Regions from separate parts of the Homo sapiens genome. Here regions 1, 2, 3 and 4 are each reported to be linked to region 5. The links are microRNA targets in miRTarBase. Many come from high-throughput screens and were not tested one by one. Region 5 holds a microRNA gene; each other region holds the end of a gene's coding sequence.

What was found. The annotated mature microRNA hsa-miR-3202 reads UGGAAGGGAGAAGAGCUUUAAU and lies in region 5 at 2,923-2,944, shown strand. An mRNA with a match to its seed (bases 2 to 7 or 8) in the 3' UTR can be bound and repressed. Matches are read on the target gene's strand: a 7mer-m8 pairs with bases 2 to 8, a 7mer-A1 pairs with bases 2 to 7 and ends in A, and an 8mer does both.
Region 1: miRTarBase lists GIPC1 as a target of hsa-miR-3202. Seed matches in the 3' UTR shown: 7mer-A1 at 774-780.
Region 2: the mRNA of APH1A is a reported target of hsa-miR-3202. The part of its 3' UTR that is shown has no 7-base or 8-base seed match.
Region 3: the mRNA of UBE2Z is a reported target of hsa-miR-3202. Seed matches in the 3' UTR shown: 7mer-m8 at 720-726 and 7mer-m8 at 751-757.
Region 4: the mRNA of ARRB2 is a reported target of hsa-miR-3202. Seed matches in the 3' UTR shown: 7mer-m8 at 3,249-3,255.

What each region holds. Positions count from the first base shown.
Region 1 is chr19:14,474,642-14,478,641 of GRCh38, reverse strand. GIPC1 (GIPC PDZ domain containing family member 1) reads left to right here. Exons shown (of 9, transcript NM_005716.4): 9 at 75-880. The coding sequence ends at 226. It overlaps PTGER1 (prostaglandin E receptor 1), which reads left to right and starts at 3,288. Exons shown (of 3, transcript NM_000955.3): 1 at 3,288-3,380. RefSeq lists enhancers at 1-295, 2,635-3,303 and a silencer at 1,736-2,218.
Region 2 is chr1:150,262,876-150,266,875 of GRCh38, forward strand. APH1A (aph-1A gamma-secretase subunit) reads right to left here. Exons shown (of 7, transcript NM_001077628.3): 6 at 3,658-3,781; 7 at 2,529-3,319. The coding sequence ends at 3,255. It overlaps CA14 (carbonic anhydrase 14), which reads left to right. Exons shown (of 11, transcript NM_012113.3): 7 at 167-324; 8 at 424-544; 9 at 784-804; 10 at 919-1,003; 11 at 1,718-2,203. The coding sequence ends at 1,784. Among named protein-coding and RNA genes, the nearest start is that of SNORD13C, 3.2 kb to the left of the region's middle.
Region 3 is chr17:48,926,432-48,930,431 of GRCh38, forward strand. It overlaps UBE2Z (ubiquitin conjugating enzyme E2 Z), which reads left to right. Exons shown (of 7, transcript NM_023079.5): 7 at 533-2,625. The coding sequence ends at 703. SNF8 (SNF8 subunit of ESCRT-II) reads right to left here. Exons shown (of 8, transcript NM_007241.4): 8 at 2,885-4,000. Among named protein-coding and RNA genes, the nearest start is that of SNF8, 16 kb to the right of the region's middle.
Region 4 is chr17:4,720,391-4,724,390 of GRCh38, reverse strand. ARRB2 (arrestin beta 2) reads right to left here. Exons shown (of 15, transcript NM_004313.4): 13 at 3,919-3,998; 14 at 3,751-3,805; 15 at 2,894-3,445. The coding sequence ends at 3,352. Among named protein-coding and RNA genes, the nearest start is that of MED11, 9.0 kb to the left of the region's middle.
Region 5 is chrX:153,978,183-153,982,326 of GRCh38, forward strand. It overlaps MIR3202-1 (microRNA 3202-1), which reads left to right and starts at 2,915; the gene lies at 2,915-2,995. It overlaps TMEM187 (transmembrane protein 187), which reads left to right. Exons shown (of 2, transcript NM_003492.3): 2 at 3,668-4,144. The coding sequence starts at 3,881. It overlaps MIR3202-2 (microRNA 3202-2), which reads right to left and starts at 2,994; the gene lies at 2,916-2,994. RefSeq lists an enhancer at 2,292-2,401.

The DNA.
Region 1 (4,000 bases), not on the chromosome of region 5:
GGGGGCCGAATCCACCCTGAGCCCCTTGGTCCCTGGTGTCATTTGTGCCTCCGTTCTGACCCCTCCCCCAATAGCGGCCACCATGGTGGAGCTGGGAAAGGACAAAAGGAACCCGGATGAGCTGGCCGAGGCCCTGGACGAACGGCTGGGTGACTTTGCCTTCCCTGACGAGTTCGTCTTTGACGTCTGGGGCGCCATTGGGGACGCCAAGGTCGGCCGCTACTAGGACTGCCCCCGGACCCTGCGATGATGACCCGGGCGCAACCTGGTGGGGGCCCCCAGCAGGGACACTGACGTCAGGACCCGAGCCTCCAGCCTGAGCCTAGCTCAGCAGCCCAAGGACGATGGTGAGGGGAGGTGGGGCCAGGCCCCCTGCCCCGCTCCAATCGGTACCATCCCCTCCCTGGTTCCCAGTCTGGCCGGGGTCCCCGGCCCCCCTGTGCCCTGTTCCCCACCTACCTCAGCTGGGTCAGGCACAGGGAGGGGAGGGATCAGCCAAATTGGGCGGCCACCCCCGCCTCCACCACTTTCCACCATCAGCTGCCAAACTGGTCCCTCTGTCTCCCTGGGGCCTTGGGTTCTGTTTGGGGGTCATGACCTTCCTAGTTTCCTGACGCAGGGAATACAGGGGAGAGGGTTGTCCTTCCCCCCAGCAAATGCAATAATGCCCTCACCCCTCCTGAGAGGAGCCCCCTCCCTGTGGAGCCTGTTACCTCCGCATTTGACACGAGTCTGCTGTGAACCCCGCAACCTCCTCCCCACCTCCCATCTCTCCTTCCAGGCCCATCCCTGGCCCAGAGCAGGAGGGAGGGAGGGACGATGGCGGTGGGTTTTTGTATCTGAATTTGCTGTCTTGAACATAAAGAATCTATCTGCTGTTGGACCTGTGTGGCTTCGGGGTGGGAGAGGGGGAAGATTGGGGCTGAGAAAGAATTCAGCAGCTGAAATCCATCTTCCGCAGGCTCCAAATTGAATTAGGAGCTGGCACCAAGCCACCTGCCCCCTCCCACTGTTCCTTCTGGCTGCAGGCCACCAGGCTTCCAGGCAGGGCCAGAGCTTCCTGGACTACTGAGGGTTCAAATCCTGCCCCCTCTCCCACAAGGCCTCCTACCCCCTGGAGCTTCACAAGGCTGCTGTCTGCAGCTGGTGACAACCCCCGGACCGTGGGGAGCACCAGGGCATTGAAACCTGGCTTGGAAATAGAAAGATGGAACCTCAGGCCTGCCAGAGCCCCACCCCTACACCGGGAGGTTGGGGGCAGGCGTGAGGCAGCCCCCACCCCACCCGGCCCAATGCTGGACACGCAGGCGTCCATGGGGCACCCTGCTTTGTCCTAGACATAAACCCAGCATACTTGTTTTGACAACCCACTCATCTTCGAGGATTGAGGGTGATCAGGGAAAGGCGGGGTGGGACCCTGGCCAGACCTGGAGGGAAGGGAAGGGATTGAAGCAAGGGGCGCTGGGCCAGAAGGCCCCACAGGAATGCTTGGGGGTGAGCCGAGAGGCTGTGGGGAAGTCCGAGGCCAGCTTGCAATCCTCGTTCCAAAAGGCGGGCGGGCACTGGGCCACCAGGAAGAGGGGAAGGGGGAAAAGGGGAAGACCCTGGGGGCTGGGTGTTGGTGGACAGACCCGGGTGGAGTCGGGGAGCCGCAGTCCTGGTGACTCAGGGCATCCCCGGGCACCTGTGGGCTCCTCAGGTGTCTGTGCTGGGAGCCGCTTGCGGTGGTGAAGGGGTGTGGCTATGTGTGTCTCGGGTGTTGGGTAGCACTGTGAGTCTATCAAGAGTGTTGATGGCTCGTGACGCAATGAGGGAGGGCTGTGTCGTGGGTAAGGGATGTGATAACCGGCTCTGTGTTCCAGGGCAATTGCAGGTGTAACTGGCAGTGTCTGGTGGTGGGGAGTGCAACGGAGTGACTGTGTCTTGGGGTGTCCCGGGGTGTGGGGGTGTGTGTCTTAGGGTGCTGTTTCTGGGGCAAGGAGGGGTGCTTGGCTAGGCCTTGGGGTGTTCAGGGGTGTCAGGGTATGTCTCGGGGTGTTGCTGTTTCCTGGGTGGGGGTGCTGGCTAGGTCTAGGGGTCTCTAGGGGTGCAGGTGTGTGTGTCTCAGGGCGTTGCTGTTTCTGGGTGAGGGTGGGGGTGGCCAGCTAGGTCTCTGGTGTCCAGCGGCGGGGGGTGTCACTTCTTGTGCCTTGGGTGTACGGAGTGTGCTGGTGGGGCCTGTCTGGGATTGTTGAGGGGTCATTGAAAGTCAAACAGAGTGTGGTCAGGGGCAGTTTTGGCAATAAGGAGTGTGTGTGCGTGTGTGTATCTCTCGGGGTGCCAAGTGAGACCCTATTTCCCAGCACTAAGGAGGGTGGTTCGGGTGATCATCTCAGAGGGCTGCATTTTGGGGTGTTGGGAGGGGCTGGAATTGAGGCAGTAACTCTGGGTGCGTCCCGGCGCTGGGGGTAAGACCCTGAGTTCAGGGATGTGGCGGCAGCAACCTGGCTGTGCTGAGATGGGGACAGGATGAAACTGAGTGGTAAGTGACAGGATTGTATGTCTTAGGGTGTGAGGCTGTGCCAGTGTGACCCTACTTCTCAGGGCAGGAGGCGAGTCTTTGTGTCTTAGGACGTGTGTCACAGGTGTCACTCAGCCCATCTTAAAGGAGCCAGTCACTGGGGAGAGTCCCCAGGTCGCCAGGCCTCCTGGTTCCCCTGCCCCCTTTCAGCCTCCTCCCAGGATATGACTCGCTGTGGCCCTAGCCGGGGCTTAAGCCCCTGTATAAATAGGCGGATCCCCTGGCCAGGCTGGGCCTGACCCAAGCTGGTCTACCCGAGGCCCTGCCCACCAGCACCCACCCCGACATCCACGAAGGCTTTGGCAGGGCAGGGGGGGCATTGCTGGCCCCACAGAATTGGAGTTAGCCTCTCTAGCTCCAAAGCCCCAGGGAGGGGGGCAGTGGCACCCCCTGCAGCTGCCCCAGCCCGCCCCAGACGACGCTCACATTTTCCAGTGTTTAGATTTTATCCGCTTTATTAATGAGGCAAGAGGCCCGATCCTGGGGGGGAAGGGGGCTGCTCCCGCCCTGCTGGGAGGAGGGGGTCACATGGGGCCAGACCAACTCCAGGGAGCCTCACTCCTCGTGGAGGGAGCCGCTGGGGCCCAGAGTGGCCCCCGCCCATTGCCAGGAGCAGAGAGGGGGGTCTCTGCCACTCCAGGCCCCCAGCGGGCGTGCGCGGGGTGGAGCGGCCCCTGGAGGCCAGCAAGGGCGGCGGGAGGAGCTGAGGAGCCGCCCCAGGAAGAGGGAGGGAGGAAGCGGCTTGCCGGAGAGCCAGGGCGCAGTGGGCGGCAGGGCTGAGCGGCCGGTGATGGGGACCCCACATCCCAGGCAGTGCCGGGTAAGGGGGTTGCACATGAGGGTCCCTGATTGGGGAGGAGGAGGGCATGAAGGGGTGGGGCCATGGCCACCTGCTGTCCGTCCTGTGTCCCCGGGCTCTTCTCCCTGATCTGTGCGTCCCTGTCTTACCGTCTGTCCATCCTCCCTTCCCATCTGGCCTGGTGGGCAGTTCCGCCCTTTCAGCCCTCACCACCAGGATATCAAAGAGTGGATGGTCGTGGGGCCGCCTCCAGGCCTCTGGGGCAGGGATATGGAGTGGAACCGTGGGCACCCAGGGTGAGGCAGAGGTGATCGGGGTAGGGCCTGGCGAGAGACCGCAGTGGAGCAGAGGCAGGTCCATGGGGCAGGGGCAGAGATGGGTCCATGGCACAGATGTGGCTGTGCCATGTGGGGTCAGAGATGGGTCCATGGGGGACAGGGACATGGCCGTGGGGAGAGATGTGCCCGTGGTGGTAGAGATGGGGCTGGGGCATCGAGGATGGGACTGGAGTAAAGCTGACATGGGGAAAGTCAGGTAGGGCCACAGTGGCAGAAATGGGTGAGAGCTATCAGATGGAGCCACAGGCCCCAGGAATTTGCTGGGTGTAAAAATGGAAGGTGGGGGTCGGAGGCACTGGCAGA
Region 2 (4,000 bases), not on the chromosome of region 5:
CCTTAAAAATCTATAGCAGGAAGTAAGATTAGACTTTCAAAAACTATCCTTAAAAGCCTTGGGATGAAGCAATTACATAGAGCCAAGGAATTTTGCTTCTGGGAGCCCTATCTAGGTAAGCTAGGGCACACTGAAAGGAAGATGAGTCCCAGTCTGTTCTCCCCAGATCAGAAGACCTCAGTGCCTCCCTTCAACCTAAGAGAGCTGCTCCCCAAACAGCTGGGGCAGTACTTCCGCTACAATGGCTCGCTCACAACTCCCCCTTGCTACCAGAGTGTGCTCTGGACAGTTTTTTATAGAAGGTCCCAGATTTCAATGGAACAGGTAAGTGGTGGAGAAACGAGGTGAGGTGAGACACAGTTGTAACTTCAGACCCCTTCCCACTCCCCAAAGTAACACCTCTCCCACGCTTCTGCTCCTCAGCTGGAAAAGCTTCAGGGGACATTGTTCTCCACAGAAGAGGAGCCCTCTAAGCTTCTGGTACAGAACTACCGAGCCCTTCAGCCTCTCAATCAGCGCATGGTCTTTGCTTCTTTCATCCAAGGTGATTCTGCACGGCTCAGAAGAGATGGGAAACTGAGGGGGACACAATGGCAGGAACTAGGGAGCCAATGGGAAGAAAAGGCTAAAAGGGGAGGGGGTTTCTGGGACTTGCTTGGACTGGGAACCAACCCCCACCCCAGGGTGCCCCCGGGGGATTCTCCCAGGCACAGCAGCAGAGAGTGCTGCTCCCAGCTGGGATGGGGATCTGAAGTCCCACTGACCCATTTTCTTCTCTTACAGCAGGATCCTCGTATACCACAGGTAAGCCAGCCTTATAAGATAATGCGGGGAGGGGAGGTGTCCTCACCGAGTGGGGGAAAGGCTCAAAATCTATGTTAGTCCTAGGCTGACACCTTTTACCTTTATCTCCCCCAGGTGAAATGCTGAGTCTAGGTGTAGGAATCTTGGTTGGCTGTCTCTGCCTTCTCCTGGCTGTTTATTTCATTGCTAGAAAGATTCGGTGAGGCCCTACTTTCCATTCCTCCAGTCCCTTCTTCTTTTTTTTTTTTTTTTTGGTAGGTGGGAGACGGAGTCTTGCTCTGTTACTCAGTCTGGAGTGCAGTGGTGTGCAATCTCAGCTCACTGCAACCTCTGCCTTCTGGGTTCAAGCAATTCTCCTGCCTCAGCCTCCCGAGTAGCTGGGACTACAGGCACGCACCATCACACCCAGCTAATTTTTGTACTTTTAGTAGAGACAAGGTTTCACCATATTGGCCAGGCTGGTCTCAAACTCCTGACCTCAGGCAATTCGCCTGCCTCAGCCTCCCAAAGTACTGGGATTATAGGCATGAGCCACCCGCTTTTTGAGACAGGTTCTCACTGTTGTCGAGGCTGGAGTGCATGGCTTTATCACAGCTCACTGCAACCTCCACCTCCCGGGCTCAAGTGGTCCTCCCACCTCAGCCTCCTGAGTAGGTGGGACTACAGGCATGTGCCACCATGCCCAGATAATTTTTGTATTTTTAGCAGAGACGGGTTTTCACTACATTGCCCAGGCTGGTCTCCAACTCCTGACCTCAAGTGATCCGCCCGCCTCAGCCTCCCAAAGTGCTGGGATTATAGGTGTGAAACACCTTGCCCAGCCCTCTTTTCTGTTAAAAAGCATTCTCCTATTTCACCTCTAATCTGCTTCACTTAGATAGCAGTCATTCTCATGAGCCATTCCCCTTTCCAGGAAGAAGAGGCTGGAAAACCGAAAGAGTGTGGTCTTCACCTCAGCACAAGCCACGACTGAGGCATAAATTCCTTCTCAGATACCATGGATGTGGATGACTTCCCTTCATGCCTATCAGGAAGCCTCTAAAATGGGGTGTAGGATCTGGCCAGAAACACTGTAGGAGTAGTAAGCAGATGTCCTCCTTCCCCTGGACATCTCCTAGAGAGGAATGGACCCAGGCTGTCATTCCAGGAAGAACTGCAGAGCCTTCAGCCTCTCCAAACATGTAGGAGGAAATGAGGAAATCGCTGTGTTGTTAATGCAGAGAACAAACTCTGTTTAGTTGCAGGGGAAGTTTGGGATATACCCCAAAGTCCTCTACCCCCTCACTTTTATGGCCCTTTCCCTAGATATACTGCGGGATCTCTCCTTAGGATAAAGAGTTGCTGTTGAAGTTGTATATTTTTGATCAATATATTTGGAAATTAAAGTTTCTGACTTTAATTCTGGCCTATCCTTTGAGGCTCTTGAGGGTGGGCAAGTTCCTGAATCCCTCAGGTGGTAAAGATGGGCAAAGGATGGGGAAAAGAAGCATGGGTGATTAACTCCTTTTATCCCACCCCTGGAAGGAAAGATAAGCTTCTGGGAAGACACTTAACCCAAAGTTTCAGACATGTTAAACCACTAGCCCAGATTTCTGCCCTTGCACCAAGGCTATGCTTGGAAATCAGTGGTTGCCAGGTTAGGAAAGTGGCTGGATGAGAGATCTGAGGACAGAAATCTCAATTAACATGCTATCCCCTCCCTTAAAAGCCAAGTTCCCCCACAATTACAAATTCTTTTTTATTAGTCAAAATCACAATCACCTTGATTAAAAGGATGGGACACTCCACCCTCAGCAGAAAATGATACAGTTTATAGAAAACCTCCCCGCCCCTCCCACACCCCAATTAAAAACTACAAAAAAATCTCCCCTCCTTCCCTACGATGTCATGGTAGTCTGACTCCTCCAGTGGCACTGCAGCTCTGGAGTGGCCAGCTCACCACAGCACCCTCCACTTCACCTTGGGGAGAGGAGGGATGCTGGTGGTTAAGGAGGTTAAAACCATTAGTTCCAGTAATGCCAGTTCCCAAACATGCACTTCCTTCCTTTCCCCCAAGGTCTGGGACCAAGGAGAAAGGGACCGAAATGAGCCCAGCCATGAGGAGCAACTCGAGGAGAGAAAATATAGCCCAAGGAGGTTAGAAGAGTTCCAATATACCTCCTCCCTCCCCCCACCTCAAAAAAGAAAAAAAGGCAGTTTAGGGTATTTATCACACCAAAAATGGTTCCCCCTCAGGCCTGAGAAAAAGACCAAGATGTCCAGTCTTGAGGGAGTACTGAGAAACTCAGAGCTCATCTATCCTTGAGCCTCCATTAATTTCATCTCCAGGGCAATGGCTAAACTAGGTCCCTTTTCTTGGCAACCTGCACTGTCCAGAACTGGAGATGGAGAAATACAGGGCGAGGACATCAGGAGGGCACCCCAGGCCCAGGGGTCCCCCCTAGGTTCCCTCAGTCCTCGGGTGGGATGCGCAGGGCAGAATACACCATCACCCGACTGTCCTCCTGCCGTCGGCCTGCAGAGGGGAAGGGAGGTGAGTCTTGGGCAGGGTGAGAGCAGAGCACTGACACAGGGGGAGTCCTGGACACAACAAGGGGGTCCCCAGGTGGTGGGGATAAGTGCAGATTCAAACCCACCAGTCACTGACTGGCTGAACCCAGGCTGCTCCTGGTAAAGCTTAGAGACTAACGGTCACAAAAGGACAAAGCAAAACCCTGGAGGTAGTGGGGTAGACCGACGAGAAGGAGACAGAGAATGTGGGCAATGGACCCGGGCTGGGGCTGGGCTCAGTCATGGGCAGTGGACAGGCAGGTGGGATCTGTCAGGCGATCAGTCCAGGTAGTCAGTCCTTACACAAGAGGCTGCGCTGAATACTTCGGAGGGACCCTCCAGCTGTGATGAAGGCCCAGAGCCCCATGGAAACAGTGACTGCATAGATGGGCAGCAGGCTGGCCTCATACCAGGGGTTCAGGAATGTCTAGGAAGGAGGGTAAGAGTAGGAAAGAGATTAGATTCTCCCTCGACCTAATCCCCATATTCTCTCTGTACCTTTCTGACTCCCAGATATCTCTCTCAAATTCTCCAGTCTTTCCCTTCAGAGCACCAACATCTTGTGGTTAAGGGGACTTTTGATTTTCAGCTCCTCAGAAACTCAAAGGTTTCTGCCGCTCCTGCTCACCTCAGGCCCTCTGCATTA
Region 3 (4,000 bases), not on the chromosome of region 5:
CACTCTAGCCCAAGCTACACCTATTTGGGGCGGTAAGAGTGTCTTTTTTTTTTTTTTTTTTGAGACCAAGTTTTACTCTTGTTGCCCAGGCTGGAGTGTAATGGTGCGATCTCGATCTCAGCTGACTGCAACCTCCGCCTCCCGGGTTCAAGTGATTCTCCTGCCTCAGCCTCCCGAGTAGCTGGGATTACAGGCATGCGCCACGACACCCGGCTAATTTTGCATTTTTAGTAGAGACAGGGTTTCACCATGTTGGTCAGGCTGGTCTCAAACTCCCAACCTCAGGTGATCCGCCCGCCTCGGCCGCCCAAAGTGCTGGGATTACAGGTGTGAGCCACCGCGCCTGGCCCAGGTGTCATATTTTTAAGCAAAGGTTATTTTGCCTGCTGTTTGGGACTGCCTGTGCTGTTAGGCCTTCCTGCTCCCATGGCTCAGAAGTTGAGCTTTCATTTCACATGGGCCCGAAGTTGCTTTCTCTAGGATCAGCCACCCAGACTTGAATCTTCCATCCCCTTGTCTCCTTTCCCCACAGGACCCTTTTGGAGAGAAGCGGGGCCACTTTGACTACCAGTCCCTCTTGATGCGCCTGGGACTGATACGTCAGAAAGTGCTGGAGAGGCTCCATAATGAGAATGCAGAAATGGACTCTGATAGCAGTTCATCTGGGACAGAGACAGACCTTCATGGGAGCCTGAGGGTTTAGACCCTGCTCCCATCTCCCCTTCCCCCACTCAAGAGTCCCAGCAGAATCCCTTCCCCCCACCCCAGGGATGGAGAGGCACTGTGTATCTCCCTCCAGACTCGAAGTCATCCTGCAAGATGGCAAGAACCAAGCAAGCTCCGATCCCAGGGTGTGGGAGTGGGGGCCTGTTCCCGGTCTGACCTCCTTGGCACTGGAGCATCTGGGGCTTCGTTCATCCATTCATCCCGTATCAGGGGCCAAGGTACCTTTACAGGAGCACCTAGAGCGAGGGCCTTTGGCAAAAACAAAACAACCAACACACCTCTCCACAGGGCCAGCTCCTTAGGGATAAGTGGAAGATGGAAATTGCAATTCCAAGAGGGAGTGTGCCCAAATGATTTATGGGGATACCTGGAAGGGAGCTTGGGGTGGGGGCTGTCTGTGACACTTAAGCAGTCTGGGTGGTTGTCTATTTGTCTGTCTTCAGTCTTGAAGCAGGGCTTCCCAATGCCCTTTTCCTCCCTGCCTTCCTTCCCCCATTATTTCCCACAGGCCAGCATAATTTTGTTTTTCCTAATTTATAGTCACTGTTCTAGACAGACCAAAGAGAAGGAACAGTGGTGGAGTCTAGGCTGCTGATCAGTAAGCTTTACCTAGCACCTGAGCACCTTTCTCCCCTCCCCTCTTTCCTCACCCTTTTCTAGATGTAAGACAGAAAGTAAATGTGACTGGGACTTAACCAAGGTCTTGGTAAAGCCTGCATGGCACCGTAAGAAGCTGAAAATACTGTTTGTTCCCGCAATCACTGATTTGAAAAGTTCCCAACACAGGCAGCTGCTGTGTATATGGGATTAGAGCCACTACATAGAATAGTCTCTTACAGATTTTCATAAATACTAGTCACAATAAGGGTATTTTTCTTGGGGGTGGAGTAAGGGGGAGACTGATGCTAGTCCTTGTTGTATTTTGTTGGGCTGTCCTTGTGTATTTTCACCCCAGCCTGTAGTCCTCCTCACTTCAACCCCAGGGATTTTTGGGGAGCAAGGGTAGCCAATGGCAGAGGGGGTTGGGGCTGGGACTCTGGAGGCTCCTCCCCTTCTTTCTCTTCCTTCCGCCTCCCCCGTGCCCCCAGCTGCTCTTGTCACTGTCTCTGATGGGTATTTGCCTGGCTTTGTTGCTTCTCTATCTGTATTTAGCTGCAGTGATCCTTTAGCTGGTTGGCTCAGAAAAAAAAAAATGTGCTTTAGGTGCCCTGTAATCCTGGGCATCAAGGGAATCCATCCTTCCCCTTTTTGATATGTTCTCCCCGTACTTCCAGATTTATTGTTATGGCTCCCAGTGGGTATTGGCGATTCTTGTGATGCAGGGCCTCAGTCAGTGTCCAGCCATGCATAAGGGAGAGGATAGTGTGTACCTGCCCTGCCCTCTGCTATGAAGGTCTCTGCCTTGTGGATCATGGGACTCCCCTTGGAGGATCTGTGCAAAGGGGGGCTGGGCACAAAGGAGAATGTCCTATTTGGGAGGGCAGGAAGCAAAGGAACTGGACAGGGATTGGTGGGCTTGGGGAACGGAAGTTTATCTTGGATACCCTTGAAGAGGCTGGGTCTCTTCACATGAAGATCGAAAAGGGACCCTGCTTCCAATTTCCCTCTTCCATTCCTCGAGCTACTCCAGGGCTTAGAAGAATGCTCTTGGTCTGTGGGTCCAGTGTTGTCTGTCATCCATTTAAGTGTTCCCACTTTCAAGTGACAATCCTCTCCTTGGCCCTGCCATAGGGCAGAGCATGTCTGGCATAGCAGCCTGACTTTTATGCCCTAATCTTGAGTTGAGGAAATATATGCACAGGAGTCAAAGAGATGTCTTTATATCTGACTGTATATAAATGAAGTTTTTTTGTTTTTTTTGTTTTCCTTTTTGGTGCAATAAAGTTTGTTTTGGCAGAAGGAGGAAGTGCCTGTGGGTGTGGGAGGGCTTGTGTAAAGGACGAATGGGATCATCTTGTCAACCACACCTCACCTAGGCCTGGAACTGTTAGGGAGAAGGAAAGTGCCATGAATTGTCTGGAAACCGAAGACTTGCATAACATGGTGGAAGGGCAGGGCTGGGTGGGGAGAGCAGGACAAGTTTTCTCATTGGAAATGGGGTCCATGCTCTGGCAGTCAGTGACATCTTAGTTTGAGTGGTTTCCAAAGACAGACCTATTCCAGAGCTTGGAGTGAGCATGTCCTACAAGGATAGGCAGAGGAAGAGATGGGCCCAGGCTATATCCTGCTAAAGGAAGGGTCTCAGTATGGAAAAACCATTGAGTTTTCAGATTTCCAGTACTAAACTAGCACTTTTAGGATCTTAGCCTTTAGACCATAAGGACTTTGGGAGCCTTAAACAACTCTGGCCTCTTCCCTCATCACCACTTCTACTTGCTATAGGAGATTCTTGCTTTCTGATGCAGAGGCTTTTACTCTTGGCTGACCACGTGTGTAGAAAAATGTCTACACACAGTATGTGCTGCCATTCTGTACTATGCAGTGATACATGAAGGCATGGGCTCGGGTTAATAGGCCTAGGCACCAGCTTTAGCTCGGCTGAAGCTGGCGGCCCCTGGCAAATTACTTTGATTGAATCACCTGTGATGTTGAAGGCTGCCTACTTGGTGAAATTTAAGTGAGCTGTATGTAAAATGGCACAGGGTAGGTGTTCAGTAAATGACTCCCTTTCCCACTACTGAGGCTAGAGGGACCTGGCAATCACTACAGGAGGGTGAGAAAGCTAGTAGGGAATTTAAGAAAATAGAACATTCCCTAACTATTGTTTGATTCCCCTCAGATTCCATTGTTTTCTTTCCTCCAATTTAGCCACGATTGGACATTGACTTCTATTTCCTTCATACTCACAGCTAACTCTGTCATAACCTAGAGCCTCTACAGAGGAAGCCAGAAGAGACTGAAAGTGAATATTATTTACTGGTCCATTAGGACCAGCTAGTTTGAGATAAGGAACATTTTATTTAAAAGGTTTGAATTAGCATAGGCTGTAATCTATGTCTCACAGCTACAAAGACTAGACAGGCCAGGAAACAACCCACATTCTAGGCCCAGCTCTTCCATGAACTTGCAGATGACCTACAAAAATCATTTTATATGTGCTTGCCGTTCTCTGTGTTAATCAGATTATGCTTACTGAACGAGCGAGGTTTTCCTCCAATAAAAATGCAACGTGAAGGCACTTTTCAAAAATAAAAGAATGAGGGAAGAAAGAAAAACTTGGAACTTTTTTTCTATTTTTTGTATAAACAAAATTGCCCAGGTTTATTTGCCACCT
Region 4 (4,000 bases), not on the chromosome of region 5:
ACATGAAAATAAATATAAAAAATTTTCCTAGTGTATGAACCTAAAAAGCAAAAAGAATTTTTTTTTTTTTCTGAGATGGAGTTTTGTTCTTGTTGCCCAGGCTGGAGTGCAGTGGCACAATCTCAGCTCACTGCAACCTCCACCTCCAGGGTTCAAGTGATTCTCCTGCCTCAGCCTCCCGAGTAGCTGGGATTACTGGCGCCCGCCACCATGCTCAGCTAATTTTTTGTATTTTTAGTAGAGACGGGGTGTCACTATGTTGGCCAGGCTGTTCTCGAACTCCTGACCTCAGGCGATCCACCCGCCTCGGCTTCCCAAAGTGCTGGGATTACAAATCACAGGTGTGAGCCACTGCGCCCGGCCTTAAGAAAGACAATTTAAAAAAATTTATCTGTTATTGAAAATACAGGAAGCCAAATGTTTGGAAGTAGACAGAGGGGATTGTTGTACAACATTGTGAGTATACTAAATGCCATTGAATTAGACTATTTATTTATTTATTGAGAGAGAGTTTTGCTCTTGTCGCCCAGGCTGGAGTGCAATGGCGAGACCTTGGCTCTATAAAAATACAAAAATTAGCCAGGCATGGTGGCACGTGCCTGTAATCCCAGCTACTCGGGAGGCTGAGGCAGGAGAACGGCTTGAACCCGGGAGGCGGAGGTTGCAGTGAGCTGAGATTGCGCCATTCCACTCCAGCCTGGGTGACAAAGTGAGACTCCATCTCAAAAAAAGATAATAATAAATAAGTTAATTAAATAAATAAAAAGGGCAGTTTCTCAAAGTGTGTACTAATTAAAAATCCGGATTTTTGGATTCTTCTTGGGACCTTGTGACTCAGAATCGGGAAAGGTGGAGCCCAACTCTGGATTTTTACCATGGCACCCCGAGGGTTCTGATTCTCCTGAAAAAAATTTGAGATCGGCCAGGCGCGGTGGCTCACGCCTGTAATCCCAGCACTTTGGGGGGCCAAGGTGGGCGGATCAGGAGGTCAGGAGTTCGAGACCAGCCTGGCCAGTATGGCGAAACCTTGTCTTTACTAAAAATACAAAAATTAGCCAGGCGTGGTGGCGTGTGCCTGTAGTCCCAGTTACTCGGGAAGCTGAGGCAGAAGAATTGCTTGAACCTGGGAGGCAGAGGTTGCAGTGAGCCAAGATAGCACCATTGCATTCCAGCCTGGGTGAGAAAGCAAGACTCCATCTCAAAAAAAAAAAAAAAAAAATTGAGATACCTGGGCTTAGAGGTCAAGGAGCAGGTGCACGGGAGTCGGAGGGATGCTGGAGATGGTATTAGGCGGGATGGTTCTTCCGTTCTTCCGCATGAGAAAGTCCAGGTTCTGCAGGGGAGGCTGCCGCCGTGGCGGGGTAAGCAAGGTCACGGGCCTTTTGGCAGTACTTAAAGCTTGTGGGTAAATGGCGATTTAACTAGAAGTCACGAGTCATAACATAGACTAAAGGCCTGTGCGAGCTGTCCCCATCTGGCTCAGCAGCCAGAAGGAACTACTTTGCCTCTGGCTGTCTCTGTCCCAGTCTCTCTGGCCTCTTTAGGTCCCAGATGTGTTGTTTCCTCCTGCCTTCACACGACACTGCCATTGCCCAGAATGCTCATCCCTGGACGGTCCCCGAACTCCCCTCATCTTTCACTTCTCTGCTTAAAGGTCACTTTCTCAGGGAAATCTTCCCCAAACCCAACCTAGCTCAGAACTCCCTGTCACGCGTTCTCCTGGCTCCAGTACTTCTCCTCTGAAGCAAAGATATTGTAGTTAAATAACTAGGGAGGCCTGGCGCGGTGGCTCACACCTGTAATCCCAGCACTTTGGGAGGCCGAGGCGGGTGGACCACTTGAGGTGAGGAGTTTGAGAACAGCCTGACCAACATGGCGAAACCCCATCTCCACTAAAAATACAAAAATTAGCCGGGAGTTGTGGCGGGCGCCTGTAATCCCAGCTACTCCGGAGGCTGAGGCAGGAGAATCACTTGTACCTGGGAGGCGGAGGTTACAGTGAGCCGAGATGGCACCATTGCACTCCAGCCTGGACGACAGAGCAAGACTCTGTCTCAAAAGAAAAAAAAAAAAAAGGGAATGAATTAATGTGTTTTTGTTGTTGTTGTTGTTGTTGTACTGCTATACTATGCCTGGTACTTTGTAGGGACTCAAATCCAGATTGTTTGTGGAATGCATGAAGGAGCTTTAGGAGAAAGATTGGGCTTCAGGAGTGGAAGCAGATGATGGAGGTGAGAAATGTTCGTGGAGTGATGCTACCTCCCTCCAGCCCAGCCTGGGGCTTCGGTCAAGCCTCAGGGAGTCCCTGATGAATATCCCATGAACAGCACTAAGATGTGGTCCCTAGGACAGGGGCCCACGGCAGCATGACGTTCTTGCTGCCCAAGCCTCAGCTTCTGTGTTAGAATGTAGGTACCAGACTCCAGAGACGTCACGTGGCTTGTCTGGTGAGGCCTGCGGTTGTGGCACCGCTGAGCCACAGGAGCAGATGGCTCGAGCAGCCATAAGGAGCAGTGGAAATGAACGCGACTCGGTCACAACAGGTCACAGGTGGTCATGTGCGTCGGCCGCAACAGGGAAGGGCCTGCCCTGGCTAGCTCCCGTGAGCATCTGTGTGCAGGCGAGTTAGTTTAGTTACTGTGACCTCTAGAAATGACTAAGTTCACTTTGTGGCCTTATCAAGCCTCACCCTTGAGTTTGGACTAAGTCAAGTTTTGATGTTTACCCTGGAACACAGCCACAGCACAGTCATCCAATAAACATTTGCTGATAGCCTCCGTGTCAGGTGGCTTTTGGGTGCAGAAGAGAGACTGGGTCCTCCCCCACAAGCTAACAGAATCATGGATAAGCACACCATACACTCTCTAAACACTACAGAGAAAACACACACTCATGCTTAGTAAAAGATTTATTTTCTTCTTTATGCTCAGAAACAAAGAAACGGCCTTGTCCCCAAAGGGTCTCCTCTTGAAGGAATGGGGGCAGAGAGAGTGATAATGGGAGGTGTTGGTGTGAGGTTGAGAGTAGGAGTTTTGTCTCCCCCTTTCCCTCCTGTCACTCCTCTTTTCACTGTCCCCTTCCAGAAAATTTAGGTATGAACACAGCTTGCCACCCACGGCGGGGCTGGAGAAGCAGAGCTGCAGTCAAAAAATTAATGCCCACATTCAGCAAGAGAGGGTCCAGTGTGTATCTTGGGGGGATGGGGGAGAGAGTGTGAAGGGATTGGTTGAAGAAGCTTCCAGGTGAGGGGAAGGGAAGAGGGGCTGGGACAATCCCCCATTGACAGTGGGGATCTTAATCCTGCCCTCACCTCTCCCAACCCCATCCCCTCCCTTCTTCCCACCCCGCTTCCTAGCAGAGTTGATCATCATAGTCGTCATCCTTCATCCCCTTCAGCCGAAGCCGGGCAAAGTCCTCAAACACAATGTCATCATCTGTGGCATAGCTTGGTGGTGGGAAAGAGGGTTGTGAGGTGAGGGCTTCTGACTCTTGTCCCAGCCTCCCACTCCCTGCCCTCCCCGAAGCTAGGCCTCTGGGACAGAGGCGTTCGAACAGCAGTGGGACCAGAGGTATTTACAGGAAGGGACAAAGAAAAGGCAGCAAGAGGCAGCCTCACAAGGCTAAGGCATCTTGATTTGATGCTACAATCCGCTTCTCCCCACCAAAAGCAAGGAAGAGGTATGAGGGCAGATTTGAATGTTATAGGAATCTTTGTCCCAAGAGGGTCAAGTAGGGGAATGAGTTTCTTACTTGGTATCAAATTCAATGAGGTTGGTGTCCACAGGGACATCTGTCTCCGGAGCGGCTGGGGGGACGGGAAGAGGGGGTGTGGGGGTGGGTGCTGGAAGGGCCAGTTTTCCTCCACTGGCCCTGCTTCAGGCCCTCCCTCTGAGGGCTTGGGGTGGGTAGTGTGCTCACCTGACTGGGGTCTGGGGAGGGGGATGTGGTCGTGGGGCTTGGGGTGCATAAGAACAAAAGGCAGCTCCACAGAGACATCCCT
Region 5 (4,144 bases):
CCTGGGCGACAGAGCAAGAGTCTGTCTCAAAAAAACAAAATAAAATGAAGTAATAATAAAATAGTGCTAAGTGGTCTGCATATACAGATACTTTTTTTTTTTTTGAGACGGAGTCTCATTCTGTCGCCCAGGCTGGAGTGCAGTGGCACGATCTTGGCTCACTGCAACCTCCGCCTCCCAGGTTTGAGCGATTCTCCTGCCTCAGCCTCCCAAGTAGCTGGAACTACAGGCATGAGCCATCACGCCTGGCTAATTTTTGTATTTTAGTAGAGATGGGGTTTCACCATATTGGCCAGGGTGGTCTTGAACTCTTGACCTCAACTGATCCACCCACCTCAGCCACCCAGAGTGCTGGGATTACAGACGTGAGCCACCACGCCTGGCCACTTTTTTTTTTTTTTTTTTTTTTTTTGGGGGGGAGAGGGAGTTTCGCTCTTGTTGCCCAGGCTGGAGTGCAGTGGCGTGATCTCGGCTCACTGCAACCTCCGCCTCCCGGGCTCAAGCGATTCTCCTGCCTCAGCCTCCCGAGTAGCTGGGATTATAGGCATGTGCCACCACACCTGGCTAATTTTTTGTTTTGTTTTGTTTTGTTTTGTTTTGTTTTGTTTTGTTTTGTTTTTCTGAGATGAAGTCTCACTCTGCCGCCCAGGCTGGAGTGCAATGGCACGATCTTGGCTCACTGCAACCTCTGCCTCCTGGGTTCAAGCAATTCTCCCGTCTCAGCCTCCCAAGTAGCTGGGATTACAGGCGTGCGCCACCACGCCTGGTTAATTTTTTTGTATTTTTGTAGAGACAGGGTTTCACCATGTTGGCCAGACTGGTCTGGAACTCCTGACCTCAAGTGATCCACCCGCCTCTGCCTCCCAAAGTGTTGGGATTATAGGCGTGAGCCACCGTGCCCGGCCTAATTTTTTTGTATTTTTGGTAGAGACGGGGTTTCACCACATTGGCTAGGCTGGTCTCAAACTCCTGACCTCAGATGATCCACCTGCCTCGGCCTCCCAAAGTGCTAGGATTATAGGTGTGAGCCACTGCGCCTAGCTTTTTTTTTTTTAGAGATAGGGTCTTGCTCTGTGGCCCATAGCTCACTGCAGCCTCCATCTCCTGGGCTCAAGTGATCTTCCTGCCTCAGCCTCCTGAGGAGCTGGGACTATAGGTGCACCACCATGCCTGGCTAATTTTTATTTTATTTTTTAAATTTAATTTTATGTATTTTGTGTAGAGACAGGGTCTCACTTTGTTGCCCAGGCTGGTCTCAAACTCCTGGACTCAAGCAGTCCTCTCACCTTGGCCTTCCAAATTGCTGGGATTACAGATGTGAGCCACCATGCCCAGCTACATATGCTTTTTGATGTATAACAGGGTAATGTCCAGATAAACCCATCATAAGTCGAAAATATAGGAACTGGACTTTCAACTTAAGAGGGGTTTAGCTGGGTGCAGTGGCTCACTCCTGTAATCTCAGGACTTTGGGAGGCCAAGGCAGGAGGATCACTTGAGGCCAAGAGTTCGAGACCAGGCTGGGCAACATGGTGAGACCCTGTCTCTACAATTTTTTTTTTTTTTTTTTTTTAGATGGAGTCGCGCTCTGTCGCCCAGGTTGGAGTGCAGTGGCGCGATCTCAGCTCACTGCAAGCTCCGCCTCCAGGGTTCACGCCATTCTCCTGCCTCAGCCTCCCGAGTAGCTGGGACAACAGGCGCCCACCACCACGCCTGGCTATTTTTTGTATTGTTTTAGTAGAGACGGGGTTTCACCGTGTTAGCCAGGATGCTCTCGATCTCCTGACCTCGTGATCCACCCGCCTTGGCCTCCCAAAGTGCTGGGATTACAGGCATGAGCCACCATGCCTGGCCCAAAATTTTTTTAACAAAAATTAGCAGGGCAGGCCGGGCGCTGTGGTAGGGAGGCTGAGGTAGGAGAATGGCGTGAACCCGGGAGATGGAGCTTGCAGTGAGCCAAGATCGCACCACTGCACTCCAGCCTGGGCAACAGAGCAAGACTCCGTCTCAAAAAAAAAAAAAAAAATTAGCAGGGCAAGGTGGTGGTATATCCCTGGTCCCAACTACTTGGGAGGCTGAGGCAGGAGGATAGCTTGGGCCCAGGAGGTGGAGGCTGCAGTGAGCTGTGATTGTGCCACTGCACCCCAGCCTGGGCAACAGAGCAAGACCCCCGTGTCTAAATAAAAATACCCAGGCCATGGCAGCAGAAAGCAAGGAAGAAGCCACGTGGAAGCCCTCCTGGCGCTTCTTCCAGGGAGGTGAGCAGAGAGCACCTGGGGCCAGGAGGCGGCATGCCTGGGTTTCTGCTCCTCCTCACTGTAACTTTCAGCCAAGTCAAACTGCTAGAGTTTCAGTTTCTTTATCTGTGAAATGCCGGGGCTGGCACAGATGGTTTCTAAGATCCCTCCCAGGCCTGGAACTTCTAAGCGATTAGGTCAAAGGTGAGCTAACCGGGCTGGGCACAGTGGCTCATACCTGTGAATCCCAGCACTTTGGGAGGCTGAGGCGGGTGGATCACTTGAGGTCAGGAGTTCAAGACCAGCCTGGCCAACGTGGTGAAACCCCAACTCTACTAAAAATAGAAAAGTTAGCCGGGCATGGTGGTACACGCCTCTAATCACCGCTACTAGGGAGGCTGAGGCAGGAGAATCACCTGAACCTGGGAGGCGGAGGTTGCAGTGAGCCAAGATTGTGCCACTGCACTCTAGCCTGGGCAACAGAGTGAGACTCCGTCTCAAAAAAAAAAAAAAAGGTGCACAAACCGAGGCCCAAGACAGTTAAGGTGCAAGATCACATGGTTAGTAAGTGGGAGAGCCAAGGTTTGAACAGTCTGGCATCAGCTGACCAGGAACTGGAGCCCACCCTTCTCTCTCCCTGAGCCCGCCTACCCGCCCACCCTCTTGAGTGCGAAATTTATTAATATGGAAGGGAGAAGAGCTTTAATGATTGGAGTCATTTTCAGAGCATTAAAGCTCTTCTCCCTTCCATATTAATGTATTTCTCAGCTACTAGGGCTCACTTACAGCACCAGTGGCCCCAAAGCAGTTGACAGTCAGTGGTAATTAAATTGTCTCTCTGGTTCTGTGACTGAAGGAGACAGAAGGCTTTATGGTGGCCTGAGGAAAGAAGGTGATTTGGGGCTTGGCACTTCAGGAGAGGGCAGGCGAGTGAGCCAGGGAAGCTGGCCTGGGAAGCCTGCGGGTCACCCCCTTGCCTCCCGGCCTGGTGCTTGAGTGGCAGACGGTGAATCCTCCTCCTCCTCCATCCCCCACCTTGTGTCAGAGGCCAGAGCTCGGACTCCATCTAATGGTCTCTAGTTCAGCTGGGTATTTGGTGAAAAGGGCTTTGGGGCTGGAGACGTCCACTTTTATAACACACTGACATGGGAAGGCGCATTCTGAGTTGTAATGACAGAGCTAGACAGGTCTTGTCTGTAGATGCAGTGGCTTTAAGGAAACTAGGACGATGGGCAGGATTTTCCTAGGTGCCAGGAGAAAGGGGTGATAGAGGATTCTAGAGGCTTGAGAGAGTCAGTGTGCAGCGGTTTCACTCTGATTTGCTTCTCCAGTGAAGATGGTTGGTAGCTCCTGAGGCCGGGGGTCAGGAACATGGAGGCGGTGCTGGGGACGGTTTGTTTTCTAACCACACTCCTTTTGTAACCACAAAGGAAAAAGGCAGAACGTTCCTCCGCTGGCGCCAGCCAATCAGCAGGACTCCTGCCTTCCTTCGGGGCAAGGTCGCAGCATCTGCCTCGGAAATCACGAAATCACGGGGCTTCTTTCTGCTGGCTCAGCCGGGAGGCCCAGAGTGTTCTGCAGAGGCTGCGTATTGAAGGCTGCTCTCTGAAGCTCCCTGCCCCAGGTCACGCCGCCGGTTCCAGATGAATCCAGAGTGGGGGCAGGCCTTCGTGCACGTGGCCGTGGCCGGTGGCCTCTGTGCCGTGGCTGTGTTCACGGGCATTTTCGACAGTGTTTCCGTGCAAGTGGGCTATGAGCACTACGCCGAGGCGCCCGTGGCCGGCCTCCCTGCCTTCCTGGCCATGCCGTTCAACTCACTCGTGAACATGGCCTACACGCTGCTGGGGCTGTCGTGGCTGCACAGGGGCGGCGCGATGGGGCTGGGTCCCCGCTACCTGAAGGACGTG